Regions from separate parts of the Homo sapiens genome. Here region 1 is linked to region 2. Evidence: fine-mapped expression QTL. Tissue or cell type: monocytes. Region 2 holds a variant in brackets; the other region holds the start of a gene. All regions are shown on one strand. Distances are from middle to middle.

Region 1 (10,440 bases), 23 kb after region 2:
GTAGGATTTATTTGGGGGATGATGAAAATGTTTGAAAATTGACTAGCATGACCATCAAACCTGTAAATATACTAAAAACTACTGAAGTGTACATTTTAAATGGTGAACTACCTGGCATAATTATATGGTACATAAAATAATATCTTTTTTCTTTTGAGACAGGGTCTCATTCTGTCGGCCAGGCTAGAGTGCAGTGATGCAATCATGGCTCGCCGCATCCTCAACCTCCCAGGCTCAAGTGATCCTCTCGCCACAGCCTCCCAAGTAGCTGGGACCACAGCCATGTGCCGCCACCCCTGGCTAATTTTTATATTTTTTATGGAGACAGGGTTTCACCATATTGCTCAGGCTGATCTCGAATGCCTGGGTTCAAGCAATCCGCCCATCTTGGCCTCCCAAAGTGCTGAGATTACAGGCATGAGCTACTGCACCCAGCTATACATTATATTTTAATAAAGCTTTTTTTTTTTTTTTGGAGACAGAGTCTTGCTGTCGCCCAGGCTGGAGTGCAGTGGCGCGATCTCAGCTCACTGCAAGCTCTGCCTCCTGGGTTCACGGCATTCTTCTGCTTCAGCCTCCCTAGTAGCTGGGACTACAGGCGCCTGCCACCATGCCCGGCTAATTTTTTTGTATTTTTTCTTTAGAGACGGGGTTTCACCATGTTAGCCAGGATGGTCTCGATCTCCTGGCCTCGTGATCCGCCCGCCTCGGCCTCCCAAAGTGCTGGGATTACAGGTGTGAGCTACTGCACCCAGCCAATAAAGCTATTTTAAAAAAATTCATGATTAAAAGATTTTTTTTTACAAGTCTTCTAAGAAGAGAATTTCCTTAACTAGATAAAGGGTATTTATTAAAGACAACAGGAAACATAATGCTCACTGGCAAAACATTCCGAGTTCTCCCTGTGTGATCGGAGGTAAGACAATGAGCTGGAGGGTCCTAGCCAGTCCAGTGAGACGAGAAAAAAAACAAAAGGTAATTGGAGAAAGAAAAATAATATGAAGTGCACAGAAAAATCAAGGAGATTCTATAGAAAAAAAAAATTTTGCAACTAGCAAAACTTTAGCACAGATACTAGTCACAAATTCATTATCCAAAAATCAGGCTGGGCATAGTGGCTCACCTGAGGTCAGGAGTTCGAGAGCAGCCTGGCCAACATGGTGAAACCCCATCTCTACTAAAAATACAAAAATTAGCCAGGTGTGGTGGTGCATGCCTGTAATCCCAGTTACTCGGGAAGCTAAGGTAGGAGAATCACCTGAGCTCAGGAGGAGGAGGTTGCAGTGAGCTGAGATCGCGCCACTGCTCTCCAGCCTGGGTGAGAGAGTGAGATCTCCGTCTAAAAAACAAACAAACAAACAAACAAACAAAAACAAAAATCAACGCATTTCTATATACCAGCAACAAGTAAAAACTAAGACTTTAACAGATACCATTTACAACGGCATGGAAAAATATGAAATAGGTGGTAATATATGAGATGGAAGACCCCTACAGAGATCACAAAGAACATCTAAATAGATAAGCCCACACCCACAAATTATAGGATGCAATATAAAGAGGACAGCACCCCAGAATGAACTGCAAGTTCAGCTCAGCCTTAAAATCCCAGCAGGCAGGCTCTACGTGTTTAAGAAGTAAGTATATAAGATACATGTGGAAGTGTGAAGGGACAAGAATAGCCATAGATGATCCCGGAGAAAGATACAGTGGGAGGGTTTGCTCCGTCCGCTAACAAGGCTTATAAATAAAGTGACAAGAACCGACTTAGTGGGTTATTAGCACATCGATATGTAAATGACCAAAAGAACAGAGCACAGCCCAGAAACACATCCACAGCAGAAGCTGCAGTGCAGATCAATGGAAAAGGACAGTCATTTCAATCAACGTTGGGTGCTGGACTAATTGCACATCCATGTGGAAAATTAGACTCCCTGCTTCACACAATCATCAATTCCACGCAGACTGAAGATTCAAGTGCGAAAGGTAAAACTGTACAGCTACGCCAAGATAACCCAGGGAGTGTTCCGGGCATGTCCCTCGGGGAGACACAATAGGCACCAATGATAGTGGGCGGATGAATACACCATCTATGTTAAAACTAGGAGCTTCTATTCATCCATGATTCCAGGAAAAGGGCTGGGCGCACAGATCACACCTGTAATCCCAACACTATGGGAGGCCAAGGCAGGAGGATCACTTGAGGCTAGGAGTTCAAGACCAGCCTGGGCAATACAGTAAGACCCCCATCTCCATACACATGCACAAAAATTAGCCAGGCGTGGTGGCAGCGCATCAGTCCCAGCTACTACAGAGGTTTAGGAGGGAGGACTGCTTAAGCCCAGGAGTTCAAGGTTAAAGTGAGCTATGATTATACCACTAGACTCTAGCCTGGGTGACAGAGTGAGACGCTGTCTCAAAAAAAAAAAAAAAAAAAAAAAAAAGGATTCCAGGAAGCTAAGTCAAAGTCAAAGGACAACTGGGAGATATTTGTAACTGAAAAAGGACTGATATCTAGCATTTATAATAAATAATAAAAAAGACACTCTTACAAAACAATGGGAAAAAAGAGAATTTAAAAGCAGATTTGAATATACAATTCTCAAAGCAGAAAACCAAACAGCAGGCCGAGTGCCATGGCTCACACCTGTAATCCCAGCCCTTCAGGAGGCTGAGGCAAGCAGATTGCTTGAGGTCAGGAGTTCAAGACCAGCCTGGGCAGCATGGTGAAACCCTGTAGTCCCAGCTACTCAGGAGGCTGAGATGGGAAGATCTGAGGTGAGGAGGTCAAGGCTGCAGTGAGTCACGATGGTGCCACTGCACTCCAGCCTGGTTGACAGCGCCAGACCCTGTCTCAAACAAAACACAAACACAAAAACAAAACACTCTGAAAAATAATTTGGCATGATCCTATGATCCTCACAATTCCACTCCTAGATGTTATACCCTAGAGAAATCCAAGATTCCAAACACCTGAACATATGACCGTAATGTAGTAACGGGATGATTTACAAGAGCACAAAAGCTAAGCGTGTCACTGTGGCAGAATGGATAAAGTGCCTCGTGCTCACAGACAGGAATACCACGCAGCAGTGAAAATTAAACTGCAGTCAGCTGCAACGTGGATGAAACTGTCACGGCGTCGACCAAAAAGACACATGCACGCCACACACAAAATACACTATGATACCATCACACTAACTCCAAATCCGGCAACCAAGCTGTGCCATTTAGGGGTGCATAAATAATTGCTCACACCGGGGAGATGGCACAGAAATGATTACCTTTCCAAAATGAGGAAGGGGAAAGGAAGAAGGCCGTGATTACCAGTGGGAGGCTTCCAAGGAACAGGCATGGTTCTACTTCTCCACCTGTGTAAGGATCACAGGAGTGGCTCGCGATGCTATTATTATTCGTTAAACTGAACAAAAATGCACTTTTCCATACATGTCATATCTCAATCAAAAGCAATTACAACCTATAATAGCTAATAATACATCAGTAGCCAGGAACGTTTAAACAACCATGGGGCTTCAATAGTCTGCAAAACTACTCGGTTTATTTCGCACGGAAAGCGATACAATATAAAGTTTAGGAAAAAAGAAAACAAACCTCACACACCCACTTATTGGAATGACGCAAAACGGCGTGTAGAAAAGAGTAAAACGGACACAGAGCGCTCCGGACGGCCGGGGTCTTTGCGAGGTGAGAACAAGAAAATCCAGTCAGCGGACACTGGAGCTACCGAGCCCAGGCCGCCCCTTCCTCACGCGGGGGTTTCTCTCGGGATCCCCGCCCTCGCCCAGGTCACCAGGGCTGCGTCCCCGACGGGAAACCCCGATGGGAGACCCCGCTGGGGCCGGCGCACCCCCGCTCCAAGAGTCGGTCGCTTCGGCACGGTGGGGGATTAGGGTGGTGAGGACCGAAGGCGGGGGAGGCGGGGGCGGGTGGGGATGAGTACCCGGGGGCCCAGGGAGGGGAGTGAGGACCTGGGGGTCGTAGCGAGAACCCGGGGCCCGGCGGGGAGGAGATTGAGGATCCCAGGGGAGGTGAAAACTTGGGTAGGGGTGAGGACGAAAAGTAGGGAGGTGAGGACCCTAGTGGGGGATTCCCAGGGGGCGAGGAGGGGCGGGGGGTCCTGAAGACCCACGGTGGGGATGAGAACCGAGGTGGGAGATGAGGATCGAGGCGGGGGATGAGGACCCAGGGGGAGGTGAGGACTGGAGGGAGGTATTCGGAGGAGCGAGGAGGGGGCGTGAGGGCGGGCCGGGGGGGTTAACAGTCTGAAGGGGGATGGGAAGGTTGGGGGAGGGAGCGAGGAGGGTCCGGAGTTGGGTGTGCGGGTCGGAGGTGGGAAGGTTGGGAATCTGGGGGCCGCGGGGCGCCACGCCTGCCTTACCTCGTCCACCGTGCGGCGCGGGAGGTGCAGCGTCCCGAGTAGCAACTTGAGCTTCACTGCCGACGAGAGGCCATGGAAGCAGAGACGGATGTTGTCGATGACCGCGGCCGTGAGCAGGGACGCGATGCTGGGCGGCGCCCACAGCTCGTCCGTGGCCCCCAGCTTGTTGTGCAGCCACAGGCCCGTGTCGCTCTCCCGCATGGACGCCATCTTGGGGGAAAGCGCGCGCCGCTGCCCCGGCATCTTATGAAGACACCTACGCGTCCCTCGCTAGGACCCCAACATGGCGGCGCCCGTCGGGCTGCGGGCCGCAGAGGCGGCGCAGGTGGCGCGGTCCCACGAGCGGGGCTTCCCGGGAGAGCGCTTCTGGGTGGCGACCGCGTCTCCGGGTAGCGGCCGCGTCTTCGGGAAGCTTTGTGGCAAAGCCGAGAGCCGGAAGGACGGGGTGCCGCTGAGCAAGGACTATCGGCTTCCGTAAAACATCATGGCGGCGCCCTCTGCTGGCTCTCGGGAAGACCGCAAAAAATGACGTCACGAGCAGGCGCGCGTATTCGCGTCTTGGGAGCCCGGGCTGCGGCCTGGCATTCGCAGTGCAGGTGTCAAGCGCCGCAGACTTGCTGCTCGCGCGGTGGGGCGGAGGCTCCCTGTGGCACCTGCCCCGCTGTCCGCTCTTCGCTTTTTCCCCGCTTGGGTCTCGGCGCGGACCGTGTGGACGCCCCGCCCCCGCGGGCCCAGCACCTGCACGGAGAGGAGCCGCGGCCCTGCGGAGCGAGCCTGCGGGATCCCGGTCGCAGCGCTGAGCTTCCGTCCCCCGCTGAGCCCGCTCTGCCCGTGGCGCGCCGCCGACGGGGCTGCGCTGAGCATGCGGGTCGGAGGGCGCTCGGGAGCTGTCCAGGGGCACTCGTGACCCCACAGTGCAGGGAGGCCCCGGCCCCCAGTCGGGCTGGAGCCGCCAGGCAGGAGCCAGTAGTGAACTTTTCAGTTTTAAAAGCTTGTCATTAGATACAAACATGAGTAAAAGTTAAACTTCATTTTATTAAATTCGTTTTACCCTTTTGTCTTTTTGACGAGGCCTTCCTATGTTGGCCAGGCTGGTCTCAAACTCCTGGGCTCAAGCGATCCGCCCGCCCGCCTCTGCCTCCCAGAGTGCTGGGGTTACAGGTCGGGGCCGCCTTGCTTGGCTTCTGTATTATATCTTTTTTTTAAAAGATCTTTTCCTTATTGTTCCACTGCCATGCTCCTGCCGCCGTTCACAGCTATTGCCACTGGGCGGTGGGAACGCCGGGAGAACAGGGCTCAGCCCAGCTGCTAGCAGTGCCCTGGCCCTGGCGGCTTGAACTTGGCAGTCCTGCGGAAGTCACACGGGGGAAACCCGCAAATGCTACAAATCAGTGCTGGAGCGGTGGTTTTGTTGATTGCTTAAACTGAAGAAAGTGATAGAGAAAATGTTGATGATAAAGATTAAACTTAAAACTGTCATGTCGACAACCGTTACATTGCAAATAGCACATAAAATTTAAGAGAATATTTTTTAAATGATTCAAAAGTGTCGAATTCAGCAAAGACAAGTTATTGACTAATGGGTGAAGTTGTGACATCAGTGGGGCTAGTGCTGAAAGAAGTTTAATGATTAGGCCGGTCACGGTGGCTCACGCCTGTAATCCCAGCACTTTGGGAGGCCAAGGCGGGCGGATCACCTGAGGTCGGGAGTTCGAGACCAGCCTGGCCAGCATGGAGAAACCTCGTCTCTACTAAAAATACAAAACTAGCCGGGCTTGGTGGCGCATGGCTTGCCTGTAAGCCCAGCTACTCGGGAGGCTGAGGCAGGAGAATGGCTTGAACCCGGGAGGCGGAGTCTGCGGTGAGCCGAGATTTTGCCATTGCACTCCAGCCTGGGCCACAAGAGCAAAACTCCCTCTCAAAAAAAAAAAAAAAAGTTTAATAATTATAATCTGAGGGTAAGAAATAGTTTAACAGTGGACGACATATCAAATTTAGTATGAGAAGAGTGAAAGTTACTTCAAGTTGTGAAATCATGATTGAACCGTAAACATTAGTTGGTTGAAATGAAAATTTTTGTTCACAGAAACCTGTGTGCAAACGTTTATAGCAGCTTTATTTATAATAGCCCCAAACTTGAAACAATCCGAATGATTCTGACCCCCAACTGTCTGTAGCTTTCTGTAGGATACGCAGCACTTTTCTGTATACAGTGCTTGATGCATCTTGAGTCTTCAGTTTTATGCAGGAAAAATCCAAGTTAACATCTGGCTTAACCAAGAAGACAAACCACTAGGAGGACTTAGTTACAGCATCAGAAAGCAATGGATTAATATTCAGAATGAAAAAAGGAATGCTTGTAAATCGACGAGAAAAAGACCGACAATAGACAAATGTGCAGAAGATAAGAATAGGCAATTCACAGCCTGGCCATCATAGTGAAACCCCGTTTCTACTAAAAATACGAAAACAGTGGGGCGTGGTGGTTCATGCCTGTCATCCCAGCTACTCAGGAGGCTGAGGCAGGAGAATCGCTTGAACCCAGGAGGCAGAGGTTGGAGGGAGCGGAAATCACACCACTGAACTCAGGCGTGGGCCACAGAGCGAGACTCTGTCTCAAAAAAAAAAAAAAAAAAAAAAGCAATTCGTAGGAGAAACCCAAATACCGGAGAAGCACATGGAGAGATGCTTAAATTCATCAGCAACCTGACAAACCCAAATTAAAATAACAAGATGCCTCATTACACCTATCAGATTGCAAAATTAGAAAGCCAAAGTTTTTTTCATTTTAAAACATGGTATCCAGTTGTTCCCATATTATTTGTCGAAATGACGATCCTTTCTGGACTTTTCTATCCTGACTTACTCATCTATCTTTATGCCAATACCAGACTGTCTTGGTTACTATAGCTTTCTAAAATAAGTGTTGAAATCAGGTAGTGTTAATTCTCTGACTTTTTTTTTTTTAAAGTTATTTGGGTTATTTTAGGTCCTCTGTATTTCCTTTTTTTTTTTTTTTTTTTTTTTTTTTTTTGAGGCAAGGTCTGGCTCTGTTGCCCAAGCTGGAGTGCAGTGATGCAATCTCAGCTTGCTTCAGCCTCTACCTCCTGCGTTCAAGTAATTCTCATGGCTCAGCCTTGCAAGTAGCTGGGAATACAGGCATGCACCACCAAACCTGGCTAATTTTTGTATTTTCAGTAGAGACGGGGTTTCACCCTGTTGGCCAGGCTGGTCTAGAACTCCTGACCGCAAGTGATCCACCCACCTCAGCCTTCCAAAGTGCTGGGATTACAGGTGAGCCACAGTGCCCAGCCTGCATTTCCATATAAATTTTAGAATCGTTTGTCAATTTCTACAAAAAAAAAAAAAGGCTTCTGGCATTTTGAGTGGAATTGTGTTGAATCTGTAGGTCAGTTGAGGGAGAACTGGTAACTTCTGTCTAGTGAACATAGTATTTCTCTCTGTTTATTTGGGTCTTTAAATTCTCTCAGCTAGGCTCATGGCTATGTAATCCCAGCACTTTGGGAGGCCGAGGAGGGTGGATTGCTTGAGCCCAGGAGTTGGAAACCAGCCTCAGTAACGTGGCGAAACCCCATCTCTACAACAAATATAAAAAGCTGGGCTGGTGGTGCGCCTGTAGTCCCAGCTACTTAGGAGGTTGAGGTGGGAGGATCACTTGAGCTCAGGAGTTCAAGACCAGCCTGAGCCACATGGTGGGACTCTGTCTCTAAAAAATTAAAAATAAATTAAAAAATAAATTTTCTCAGCCCCATTTTGTAGTGTTCAATGTAAGGGTCTTGCACATCTTTTCAGAATTGCCTCCAAGTATTGCATAACCTTGATGTGGTTGTAAAGGGTGTTGTTTAAAATTTTTAATTTATCAGTGTTTGTCGCCAGTATATAGAAATACAACAGATTTTTGTGTGTTGATTTTGTATCCTGCAGCCTGGCTAAACGCATTTATTTGTTCCAGTAGTTTTTTCATACATTGTATTAGTTTTCTGCAAAGACAATCATGCCATTTGTGAAGGCAGTTTTATCTTTTTTTCTAATTTATTTGCCTGACTCTGCAACATAAAGAGTCCTTATTTTGGCTGGGCATGGTGGCTCACATCTATAATCCCAGCACTTTGAGAGGCTGAGGCAGGCGGGTCACCTGAGGTCAGGAGTTCGAGACCAGCCTGGCCAACATGGTGAAACCCCATCTCTACTAAAAATACAAAAAATTAGCTGGGCGTGGTGGCAGGCGCTTGTAATTCCAGCTACCCAGGAGGCTGAGGCAGGAGAATCGCTTGAAACCAGGAGGCGGAGGTTGTAGTTAGCGGAGATCGTGCCATTGCACTCCAGCCTGGGCAACAAGAGGGAAACTCCATCTCAAAATCGAGACCAGCCTGGCCAACATGGTAAAACCCCGTCTCTACTAAAAATACAAAAATTAGCTGGACGTGGTGGCAGGCGCCTGTAATCCCAGCTACTTGGGAGGCTGAGGCAGGGGAATTGCTTGAACCCGGGAGGCGAAGGTTGCAGTGAGTTGAGATCGTGCCATTGCACTCCAGCCTGGGCGACCAAAGGGAAAAAAAAAGTCCTTATTTTTACTTTAAAGCAATAAATTTTACAACTTTACTGAATTTCTAAAAAAAAACCCTAGTGGTATTTTGATTGGCTTTCCATTGGGTTTGTAGATTAATTTAGAGAGAACTGACATCTTTATATAGTATATGATACACAGACAAGCTTTCATTTTTCTTTCTTTATGATCTTCAGTAGACGTTACTATTTTTCTCCATACAGTTTTTTTTTTTTTTAAGAGAGGGTCTTACTCTGTTGCCCAGGCTGGAATGCAGTGGTGCGATCTCAGCTCACTGCAGCCTCCGCCTCCCAAGCTCAAGCGATTCTCATGCCTCAGCCTTTCAAGTAGCTGGGACTACAGGCATATGCTACCATGCCCAGCTAATTTTTGTGTTTTTCTCTTTTTTGATATAGAGTCTCGCTCTGTTGGTGAGGCTGGGGTGCAGTGGCGCGATCTCGGCTCGCTGCAACCTCCGCCTCCCGGGGTCAAGCAATTCTCCTGCCTCTCACCTTCCCTAGTAGCCTCCGCCTCCCGGGTTCAAGTGATTCTCATCGCTCAGCCTCCTGAGTAGCTGGGATTACAGGCATGCAACACCAAGCCTGGCTAATTTTTGTATTTTCGGTAGAGACGGGATTTCACCATGTTGGCCAGGCTGGTCTCGAACTCCTGATCTCAGATCCGCCCACCTCGGCCTCCCAAACTGTTGGGATCCAGGTGTGAGCCACCACACCCAGCCTATTTTTGTGGTTTGTTTGTTTGTTTAGTAGAGATGGGGTTTTGCCATGTTGGCCAGGCTGGTCTCCAACTCCTGGCCTTGAGTGATCTCCCCGCCTTGGCCTCCCAAAGTGCTGAGATTATAGGAATGAGCCACCACGCCTGGCCAGTTCTTTCTTACTTATTTTTTTTAGAGATAGCGTCTCACTCTTGCCTAGGCTGGAGTGCAGCCGTACAATCTTGGCTCACTGCAGCCTCATAGCTGAGACTACAGGCGCGTGCCACCATGCCCAGCTAGCTTTTGAAATTTTTGTAGAGATGAAGTCTCACTATGTAGAGATGACGTCTCAAACTCTTGGCCTCAAGCAATCCTCCCACCTTGGCCTGCCAAAGAGCTGGGATAACAGGTGTGCACCACCGCGCCAGGCCTCATACAGTTCCTAATCATTTTCATTAGCTTAACTCAGATGCCTTAGTGTATTTCATGCTCTTATGAATGATATCCTGTATTCTATTTTCCAGTTGGTTATTATGAATACGAGAAATACTATTTTTTAAGTTGGACATACATCCAACAACCTTTATGGACTCCTATATTTATTCTAATAGTGGGTTGATTTAGTTGGTTATTCTGAATATTTCATTTACAGACAATGACAGTTCTGTGTCTTCCATGTATATTTATACTTTTCCTTTATTATTTTTTTGGTATTGGCCAAAGATTCCAGTCCTGTTGAACATTAGCAGGGCAGTAAGA
Region 2 (10,440 bases):
ACCCAGCTGTCCGTCCTCAGGCCGGCCTTTCTTCCGGCGACACCCGTCCATGGCTGGCTGGGTCCCCTTCGCAGTGTTTGTCTGTCTTGACATCTAAACCCCGGCGTGTGCAGTGCCCATCTTCCAGGACTACCTTATTTTCCAGAATTAAACCTGTTTTATAATTCAAGTTAATGCAAATGACTGTCAGTTGCCAAATATCTTGATCCTATGAGTGTAGTTGATGACTGTTTGTTAGTCAGTAGAGTAAAATGCTGTGTCCACGGGGTGTCACAGCCTCACCATACCCTGTTGAGGTGTGAAATGCCCCGTCAGAAATTAAATACAAACTTAAATGTGCCTATTGGTGTCTAAACTTCATACAATGTAAGGTCAGATTCCTTTTAGGAATACTGGGTGCTGTCACCAGGTTTGATAGTTAGACTTAAAAACTTGAAATTCACTTTTTGGGGGGAGGGATATACTGAAATAGAGAGTTGAGACTTGCCAGTTGGGGGAAAATAGCATTTAAAATGGAAAGCTGTGTTTGGAAAATTGTGTATGAGTATTTTTGTATTAAAAACATTTTAAAGGCTTTTTTCTTAACTTATTTTATATGGGATTGTTTGATTTTTTTTCCAGTTACTTTGAATTGCAAAGCATCGGGTGTGGCACTGATGCCTCCGATGGGTGGGGCTCCCTGTCCTGACTGTGTCATTTTGCCTTTGACCTGACCCGCTGGGGAGAGGCAGTGCCACCTTGGGAAGTATAACAACAAATACTGGAAATAGCAGGCATAACTGACTGACTTTGGAAAAATGCTTTCTTCTTCTTTCAGAAATAATTTGCTTCCCAAATTCCCATTAAGGGTGAAATGGTCTAGAGAGAAGGAAGCACTGCTGTCCCCCAGCCCTGCAGTCGGCTGAGCCGGGTGGTCCCCAGGCCCACAGCCAAGTAAGTCAAGGGAGTACCCCGAGGGCTGATCCTACCTGTTCCCCACCCTGTGGGCCAGGGTGTCCTAGGAAGCCCCCAGCCCTGGCCCACCCCGTCCTGATGGCCGCCTAGGGAGGGACTGGGTCCCCGGAGCAGGGAGGACAAGCTGGCCCCAAACACAGCTATGGTGGCTTTCTTTAGAAAAGCTCGACTTTAATGGTTCAGATAGTTTTACAATGAAAATAGGTACCCAAAGACTGTCTTAAATGTCCACAACTATACAAAAGATGAATACAAAACTCCCAGGCAGGCACAGGCAGGGGACAAGGCCCACCGTCTCCCACGCTCTGGTGTGGTCGGGTGTCCCTGCCGCACCCCCAGTACCACCGTGCCACCTTGGTCCCCTCAACCCTGGGGGTAGGAGGGCACTGCCCCAGCGAGGGAAAATAGAAAAGATTTTAAAAAGTAAGAGTCTAACAGGCAGAGCTGTCACTAAAATTAGGAAGTTGTAACTTTTTTGGTTAATTTACTTACTACATTCAAAAATGTAACGTTGAGTCCAAAAAGTGTCTTAAATCACACAAAAAAGAACCCATATTAAAATTTTAAAAATAAGCCCCAAATACCCCAGAGAAATGCATCCAGAACTTAAAACAGGCTGGGTCAGCAGCAGGGCGGCGGCCGGGGGACCTCGGGGGCCAGGTGTCCGCCATCCGGTTACTTTAAGCTGGCAAAGCCATCGTCCCGTGGACCCCCACAAGTGACGGCCAGCTGTGAGGCAGGTGGTTCTAGGACACATTGGTCATGGGCTTGTACTTCTTGAAGCGCGTCCACTGGCCCGTGGCATAGTTCATCTCAAACACTGTGTCCACCAGCATGGTTGTGCTACCCTGGCCGTCCGCCTTGGGCAGGTCCTCCGTGTGCTCGCTCAGCTTGATCTGGATCACGTCCCCCTGCTCCTGGCACGGGTTCTCTGCAGAGAGCAGGAGCTGCTGGGTGGGTGTCTGGGGGCACCCGCCCCCAACCCGGCCCGGTGCACCCCCAGGCCCTGCCTTATGAACATACCTCGGGAGCCGGCCATGAAGCCCAGGATGAGGGCCTTCTCGGGCCGCGTGACTTTGTTGGCCGTCTTGAACATCTCCTGGGCAGCGAACATCTGCTCTCTCTACAGCGGGGAGAGGGGTGTGGGTGCCAGGGCCCCGCCAGGACCACCTCCTGCATCCCCCTGCAGGCACCGTGGCACCCCCACGCTAGGGGAGGTGGCCAGGGCCGTACCACCTACCTGGTGGCCTGTGGGCCCTACCAGTGTACACCTACCGTGAGGGACAGGTTCTTCTTAGGCTGCTGCTGAGCAGGGGCCTGGGTCTGCGGGGCCACCATGGCAACCGGGGGTGTCTGAGTGGTAGGGGCGACAGCCGGAGGTGTGGTGGGTGTCAGAGGCGAGGTGGGCGCCGCAGGCGTGGGTGTGGCAGGGCTCAGGCCGCTGTTGTACATGGGCGCCCGCTGCTTGAACTGCGCTGGCAACGTGGGGCTCGGGGCGCTGGGCTCCTCTGGTGGGCGGCTGGCTTCCCGGGAAGATGGGGCTGCAAGTAGACCGGGGCCTGGTGAGGGGGCTGGACCCCCACCCTGTTCCCAAACCCTAGTGCTCCTGGAGGTGACAGGCTCAGCTCCCCTTCTCTGTCCTGCTACCCTCTGACAAGAACTCCCTGTGGCCCCCAGCCAAGGCACAGGCCCCAGAAGCCCCAGCCAGAGGAACAAGGCCAGTGGTCTCAGGCCTTTCCAGACTCGCAGATAAGATGTCTGGACTCTGGCCAGCTGCTGGCCTGCAGCAGGTCCCCATACCGTAGGCACTGCTGGGAAGACAGGAAGGCTGTATCCTCAAGCCCCTTGGGCCCAGGACCTGGCCTGAGGTGCTGTGAGCCTGGCAGTGCCCTCCGTCTGGGAGGGGATGGCTCTCAGCTCCCCTCCCGCCTACCCAGCAACAAGAGCTGGGTCACCTGGCAGAAAACCCTTTCGAACCCAATCCCCTTCCTGCCGTGTCCCCTGGGGCCGCTGCCTGTCTGTGCCCAGGACGGGCAGGGTGGGGCAAAGCAGCTGGTTTATGTCTTGGAGCTCAAGCTGAACAGCGGGGCATCTGCCCCCAGCAGATTCTGGCTGAGGCAGAAGGGGGACAACAGAGATGCAGGAGTGAGAACCGCAGCCCTGGCAGCGCCCGTGGGCAAGGTCATGTCCTGGCAGGCAGCTTGGCTGGTTCCAGGCTGGGGCCAGCAGACTCACCTGGGGGCGTCTCGGAGCTGGGGATGTAGGAGGAGGCGGGAACCACGCTGGGCGTGGAGGGAAGGTAGCTCGTGGAGGGCAGCGCAGGCTCATTGTTCAGGGACCCAAGTTTCTGGAACACAGAGTTTAAGGTTCCTTCCAGAAGAGGCCATGCTTCCGGCATGTGCTAACACATGGCCCGACCCGGAGCTCCACTGCCACAGGCTGTGGCCCCCCGAGCTAGAGCAGGAAGGCGGGGGCCACTCTCCCGAGCTCCCTGGGCTAGACAACGGGACCCCTGGCCCCTGGCGCCCCAGCAGAGTTGGGGACTGAGCCGCTCCTGTGTAGGAGAGGGGAGGGGTTGAGGAGCCCAAACAGCCCATCTTGAGCACAGAAGGAGCGATGCTTTTTCTTACCACGAAGCGTTGATATAAAGGAAGATGCTCATGTTAAGAAACACAGAACACGCAGCGGCGGGAAGAAAGGAGCTTATTATCCTGAAGTGACCCCACAGTGTGGCCTCCTCCAGGCCCTGGCCTCAGACGACCCACTGCAGCCTCTGTGCACCTGCCGCGCCCCGTGGCTGCCTCCCACCCGCAGGCAGGGCCTGGTCTCCGGGACACTGAGGCCTCTGACCACCCAGCACCCCCACAGGCCTGTCCTGCACCCATTCACGGCCACGTGCAAGGCTTAGGTCCCACCAGCCCTGCCTGACGGGACACTGAGGCACAGGGTTGAGGAGGACTCCCCTGGCAGCCCCTCCAGCAAGCGTGGGGCAGGTTCCCGCTCCAAGCCTGAGTCAGATGCCCATGTCAGGGCACGGCCCACACTGCCTCTCATGTACATATACGTATATATACATAAATACAGACTGCACACATATGTACATACATATATATATTCTCCGACAGAGCACACTAGTGGCCACAATCGGAACAAAAGGGGCACCCGCAGTGGTGCCAGACATGGGGTGCAGCCCCGAGCCCTACCTGCGTGGACACCAGGCCGGCTGCGTAGTCCGGGGTGGCGTTCTCCACCACCGTTTCCTCCTTGGCCGGCTTCTCCACCACCTCCGCATCTGTGGACAAAACAGGAGTCCTCGCCAGTGCCCGGGCGCGTCTGCAGTGTCAGCTCAGGGCAGCGGCAGGGAATCAAACAGCTTCCCAGGGGAGGCCACCAAGGAGCGAGGAGAAAAGCAGGCACCCACCCACGGAGAGCAGCCTCACGGGGCACAGCCCTGCCCGCCGAGCGTGGGCACAACCCACCCCAACTGGGCAGGGCCCGCAGGGACCCCCATTGCCGCCGACACGCAGGCCCCAACCCCCACCGAGAGTCTTCCTTCTCCGCTTCGCCTCTCGGCCAGCGCCAACCATATCCAGCTCAGAGATGTCCAGCAGCTGCCAAGACAAGCACAGCCCTGCCTTAGTGACGGCACCAGGGCGCAACGGGCCCCGGGGTGCCACAGGAGCTGGGGGACGGGCCTACCTTCACACCTCGTTCCTTCCGCAGCAGCGTCCTGGAAGGCGGGATGGGGGTCCGGTTCCCTGTGGGGCTGAAGACGCTGGGCGCCGTGGGGCTTCTGAAGGGCGCCTGCTTCGGGATGCCTTTGAGTGGGGCTGGAGGACGGCAACAGTCAGGGCGCCAGCAGCAGTGACCGGCAAACGTCCCCCACCCCGAGCTCAGAACGTCCCACCCTCTTCTAGGCTAGCGCCGCAGAGGGGAAGGGCCAAACCCCTGGCGGGC[A/G]GCGGGCAGGACCCCCAGGATCCCGGACCTCAAGGAGCAGGGGAACGCCTGGAGCCACGACCTCACACTTTGCCAAGACACCAAACAAAGACAGCGGCACCCCAGCCCAGCCACAGGATCTCACCAGGTGGAGTCTCTCACCAGTGTGGCGGGGGCTGAGCTCTGCCTCCTTCCTGTGCCTCCACCGGCAGGGGCATGAAGCCAGGCGCCTGGGCTTGAGGGCCGCCCTCCCAAGCCTTCTCCCCGTCCCCTGAGGACACTCCTGAGGCCTACCTACGCTGTTACCCACCAGCGCCCACACGCACCCTCCAAGGCGTGCGTGGCTCTCATGGTGCCAGGCCCGGAGAGAGGACGCCCGGGGGATGGTGCCATCAGCACACCGGGCCAGGCTGGACACACTGCTCAACGGCTGGCCCACCCTCCCTGGGCCAGCAGGTGCAGCCCTGGCCCTGGGATGCCTGGTGGGGGTGGAAAGACAAGGGTCTGCTCCAGGCGGGGTAGAGGAGAGCAAGGTGGAACCTCGGCTGCGGTGGGCAGGAACATGACCCAGGGACGGCCCCCCACACAGCGACAATAGTCAGCAGACCCAAGATGCCTTCTACTAGGTCCCATGTGAACACTGTGGGATTATGGGAGCCCAAATAAACTAAGCCAGGCTGGTCTGGGAGCTGCATGGAGAGCGCCTGTAAGGCTGCCCTTTCAGCCCCACCCATCTGCAAGTTTACCCAGCTGTCTCAGCACAGGACGACACCCGTCCTGCCCTCTGGCCCCCAGGTCACTATCCAGCACCCTCTGGGGTGAGTATGCCCTGCCATGGTTCCCAGGGGCACGCCGTCTTCCTGTGATCAGGGTGCATCCTGCTTAAGCTCACGCCCAGCCCTGAGAGCACAAATCAGGAAGGGCAGATGGAGGGGTGCGGGGGGCACAGCCCCACGGGCAGCTGAGCACGGTCACGTCCTCCCCGCGGAGCCGCCCAGGGACACTCGGAACCCAAGAGCAGCACTTGGGGCCGAAAGCCCGAGCTGGGAAGGCCGAGAGCCACCGGTGCCAACAGCAGAGGAGCAGGGGCCAGCACTGTCCTCAGATCCCGGCCTTCCTGTCTCCATGCCCAGCGGTGTCCTCAGATCCCGGCCTTCCTGTCTCCGTGCCCAGCACTGTCCTCAGATCCCGGCCCTCCTGTCTCCGTGCCCACACATCCTCCCAGGGAGCTCCCCAAGGGGAGAAGCCGGTGAAATTGCCCCAGTGCCTTCGCTTTCCCACGGGCTCCCAACACTGCTGCCTGAAGACCATTCACAGGCACCACCTCCCCAACAGGGAGCGGGTCTCCAGGTGAAGCCCTTAGCTCTGCCCCAAAAGCAAGGCTCACGGCACCAGGGTGGGGGCCTTACTGGTGGTGTCCATCTTCCGCAGCAGCCCCCGGCCCTTGGCGTGGAAGGGCACCCCGGCGCTCCGCTTCAACTGCTGGGCGGTCTCCGTGGCTGGAAGGAAGAGGTCACATATGTCAGGGATCCTCAGAGCGAGAGCCCTTGGCCCTTGTAAAAACATCTCTGTCAAGTGGATTCATCCGACGGCCTGAGCCGTGAACGCTGCATTCTCTCTAAATGAGCAGCTGTTCCGAGCCGGGCCTGACACCAGCTCGCACTTTACAACGAGTCAGAAACTCACTCAGGTGAGCAAGTTTCGGGAGCTGGGTGGCTGTGGCTGCACCTCCCAGGACCCCATGGCAGGGGGGAGGCAGCCGAGGAGGAGCTGAGGGACCTCATGAGCCCTCTCCATCGACCCGGGCCTCCCCCTGGCCCAGTGGTAGCACCGTCCTCGCTGAGGGTCAGCAGGCACGGTCTAGATACAAAAATATGAGGAAGAAACAAACGAAGAGATATTCCTGACTTGGTTCAGTGTGGCTGAAGGGTCAGGGGACACCGAGTGCCCAAAGCAGACCCTGTGGCCACTGCTGGCCTCCAAAGGGGGTGGGGCCCAAGGGGCCAGCAGAGTCCTTCCTGGGCTACCCAGTGGGCCCGGGGCTGCACGGAGCCTCCCGGACAGCGCTGGGCCCTGGCTGCTGCCCGTTCCAGCCAAGATCCATGCACAGCTGCTGTCAGCCTTTTATTTGGATTCTCTGGAAACGGGGTATTGATGTACATTATAAATATTAATTCCATAACCATTCAAAATAAAACGATGTTATTGAAATCTTTGTCGTGCTTTGGGAAAACGTTAACTGAAATGATTAAATATCTTTCAAGTGGAATTGAGATCACCCGCCACTCCAGAAGGCAGCAACGTGAGAGTAAGGAACGTGCCCCTCCAGCCATTCACCCTGGCACCCACCGTGCCCAACAGCGTGACTCAGCTGGCACAGAGTTCATTTGGTCACAGAGATTAGAGATGCCTTCACCTAAAATTCTGAAGTTGGTGGGTTTTTTTTTTTTTTTTGAGATGTTGTTTCGCTCTTGTTGCCCAGGCTGGAGTGCAGTGGGGCAATCTTGGCTCACTGCAACCTCCGCCTCCCAGGTTCAAGTGATTCTCTTGCCTCAGCCTCCCAAGCAACTGGGATTACAGGCATGCACCACCACAGCCAGCTAATTTTTGTATTTTTAGTAGAGACGGGGTTTCACCATGTGGGCCAGGCTGGTCTCGATCTCCTGACCTCAGGTGATCTGCTGGCCTCAGCCTCCCAAAGTGCTGGGTTTACAGGTGTGAGCCACCATGCCCAGCCTAAATTCTGAAGTTTTTAAAGCATGTTTTCAGAACATAAAGTTTAATATAGTGATAAACTTCTAACAAAAAACTTTATGCAGAACTTTATCTTCTTTTTCTTGAGACAGGGTCTCACTCTCTCCCAGGCTGGAGTGTAGTGGTGTGATCACAGCTCACTGCAGCCTCAACCTCGTGGGCTCAGGTGATCCTCCTACCTCAGCCTTCCGAGTAGCTGGGAGCACAGGCACGCACCACCATGCCCGGCTAATGTTTTGGTACTTTTGGTAGAGATGGGGTTTCTTGGCTGGTCTCAAACTCCTGGGCTCAAACGACCCACCTGCCCCAGCCTCCCAACAGGTGTGAGCCACCATGCCTGGCCCAGAACGCCACCTTGAAGGGGCAGTCTTGGTACCTTAGAACCTAAGAAACCTATGACTGGAAACTACAAAGACAATGCCCGATGGCGGCCGCGGCCACTCACACTTCTGCAGCAGCTCCGCCCGCAGCGTGGCGCTCTTGGGTTTCCGCTTTAACTGAAAATGCTTCACCGGGGGAGTGAGGGGTCCCGCGAGGGTCGTCAGGGCGTTTTTGTTCAAGTACTGGCACTCCAGTGGCAGCATGGCAGACGCTTCACACTCACCCACTGCCGGTAAGAACCACATGAAGTTAGGGGCGCCCAGGCCGCAGACCTCCCGGCTGAGAGGAGCTGGCGGCTGCCCAGCCCCACACCCTCCTCAGTTAGGGTTAGGTCATGGGAGCTTCGGCTGTCCCCTGAGGTCCTCGAGACTGACTCCCCACGGCTCCAGCAGAACACCCAGGAGCATTTGCAGAACAGGAATGCCTGAGAGGCGGGCATGCCTTGAGAGGGCTGTAAACTGGAAACCTCTGGCACCGCGGACACCAAGAACCACAGGCGGACATAGATACAGTGATTCCTGGAGGGCTCCAGACACTTGTAGAACATGAAATGTTAACAGATCCCACCCCCACGTAAGAAGGACCCCCGATCTGTGGCTTCTCTCTTCCCGTCCCCGAGGGTAGCCAGGCTGGTGGTCTCTCCTGGAACCCTGGCCCTCATCCAAACTGCCCACATCCATTTCCTCAGCCTGTGTGCTCACCCACGGTTCAGATCCCAGAAACTGCCCCACGAGGGACAGGCGACCTCCCACCTGAACTGGCTACGTGCCCCACCTGGAGAAAAAGCACAGGCAGGCACATGAGAGTTCACCGGCCTCAGCCTTCCTGCCCGCGGGACACTCCTGAGACACGAACGGGTGGGGTGGGGTGGACCTGTCCAGACCACTGCTCCAGAGGCATCTGTGTGGTGTGTGTGACCTCACAGGTGGGGAGAGGTGCCACTTGCAGGGGGGTGGCCAGCAGGGCCCCTGCAGGAGTGTGCAGCCTCGATGTCTCCATCCCACAACCCTGTCTCTCTGGGTGCTGCCCTTGAAGGAGCTGGGGCACAACGTTTGGGCTCTGAGGAGCCAGTTCCAATTGTCCAAAGCAGGAGAGAAACTCAGAAAAGCACAAGCATCAAGCATCCCATCAAGACATGTTCTTCAAATCCATCTACAAATAGTTGTTTCTTTTAAGAGATACATTCTCACCCTGTTACCCAGGCTGGAGTGCAGTGGCGCGATCATGGCTCACTGCAGCCTTGGCCTCCCAGGCTCAAGTGATCCTCCTGACTCAGCCTCCCAAGTACCTGGGAGGACAGGCATGTGCCATCACGCCCACCTAATTTTTATTTTTTGTACAAATGGGTTCTTGCTATGTTTCCCAGGCTGGTCTCGAACTCCTGGGCTCAAGCAATCTGGCCATCTCAGCCTCCCAAAGTGCTGGGGTTACAGGAGTGAGCCACGGAGCCCAGCCTTGTGAATATTTTCTAAGTGACTTTCAGTTCACATTTAAACAACTAAATCGTTGATATTTTCAACATGCATTTCTGAGCATGTACTCTGGGCCAGGGAATGCTCTGGGCCCTAGAACCTAGGATCTACAGATACCACCTGAATGGGCAGAGCCCCTACCCTCACGGAGCCGACCAGAGAGAGACGGCGAGTGGCGTGACACAGCCTCCCACTGACACCGCAGCAGTGAGGATGGGGCCTGTGGGCTGTTTGGAGTTTGTTTTCAAAGATGGCAAAAGCCAGGCAGCAGCTTACGGGGGAGGATGGTGCATATACAGTTAATATTCTAGGGACCAGGACACACGGAAAAACGTAAAGGTCTAAAAATCAAATTCATTTCAGAAAAAAATTTTTCAAGAAAGATCCATTTCCCTCCACCCAACATGAATTAAAGCAGCACAACATACCCTTTTCTCTAAGTTCTCCCAAAATATCCTGAACGTTGGGATTCTGCTCCTCCAGCTCCAGGTTAAGCGAGCCTGTGTCCGGAAAGGACTTCAAGATGTCGGCGACCATGAGCACCCAGGGGTCCGAGTCGAGGCTGGCGAGCTGGATGATCTCCATTAGGGCGCCCTTCATCTGCAAAATAGGATGCTGCCGGCGCCACCATGCCCCTGCCCACTTCCAAGCCCACTCCCTGCTGAGCTTCCGGATGGGCACTGGGCAGTGGCCGGGCTCTCTGGCAGTTGCCCCCAACACTTCCTCCTGAGGGCTCCCCTTCCTCTGAGCCCCCCGCCTCACCCCAGGGCCACCTTGCTTCCCTGAGCAGCACAGCCTCTGCCAGGTTGCAAGGCCCCGGCATCCGGTGCCCTCCCAGCAGCCTCCCACCTCCCAGCAGCACCCAGTCCACTGGGCCTACTCTTCCACCGGTGCGCAGATGCAAGAAAACCTGAAGGGTGAGAAGCCGGGGCCACCACTGCTC

Evidence for each region. PIP is the estimated chance that this variant, and not a neighbour inherited with it, causes the effect.
Region 1: it holds the start of NELFA, and the variant in region 2 is fine-mapped to the expression of NELFA in monocytes (TOPMed, PIP 0.97).

What each region holds. Positions count from the first base shown.
Region 1 is chr4:2,004,351-2,014,790 of GRCh38, forward strand. It overlaps NELFA (negative elongation factor complex member A), which reads right to left and starts at 4,624. Exons shown (of 11, transcript NM_005663.5): 1 at 4,400-4,624. The coding sequence starts at 4,609. It overlaps LOC124900839, which reads right to left. Exons shown (of 4, transcript XM_047416543.1): 4 at 4,656-5,823. The coding sequence starts at 5,411. The coding sequence ends at 4,656. RefSeq lists enhancers at 4,307-4,807, 4,415-4,934 and a silencer at 4,995-5,374.
Region 2 is chr4:1,981,619-1,992,058 of GRCh38, forward strand. NELFA (negative elongation factor complex member A) reads right to left here. Exons shown (of 11, transcript NM_005663.5): 2 at 9,926-10,097; 3 at 8,090-8,251; 4 at 6,300-6,389; 5 at 4,654-4,784; 6 at 4,496-4,565; 7 at 4,158-4,246; 8 at 3,190-3,301; 9 at 2,230-2,495; 10 at 1,978-2,077; 11 at 1,105-1,885. The coding sequence ends at 1,701. MIR943 (microRNA 943) reads right to left here and starts at 4,859; the gene lies at 4,766-4,859. NSD2 (nuclear receptor binding SET domain protein 2) reads left to right here. Exons shown (of 22, transcript NM_001042424.3): 22 at 1-574. RefSeq lists an enhancer at 10,190-10,440. The variant A/G (reference allele first, on the strand shown) is at 4,912.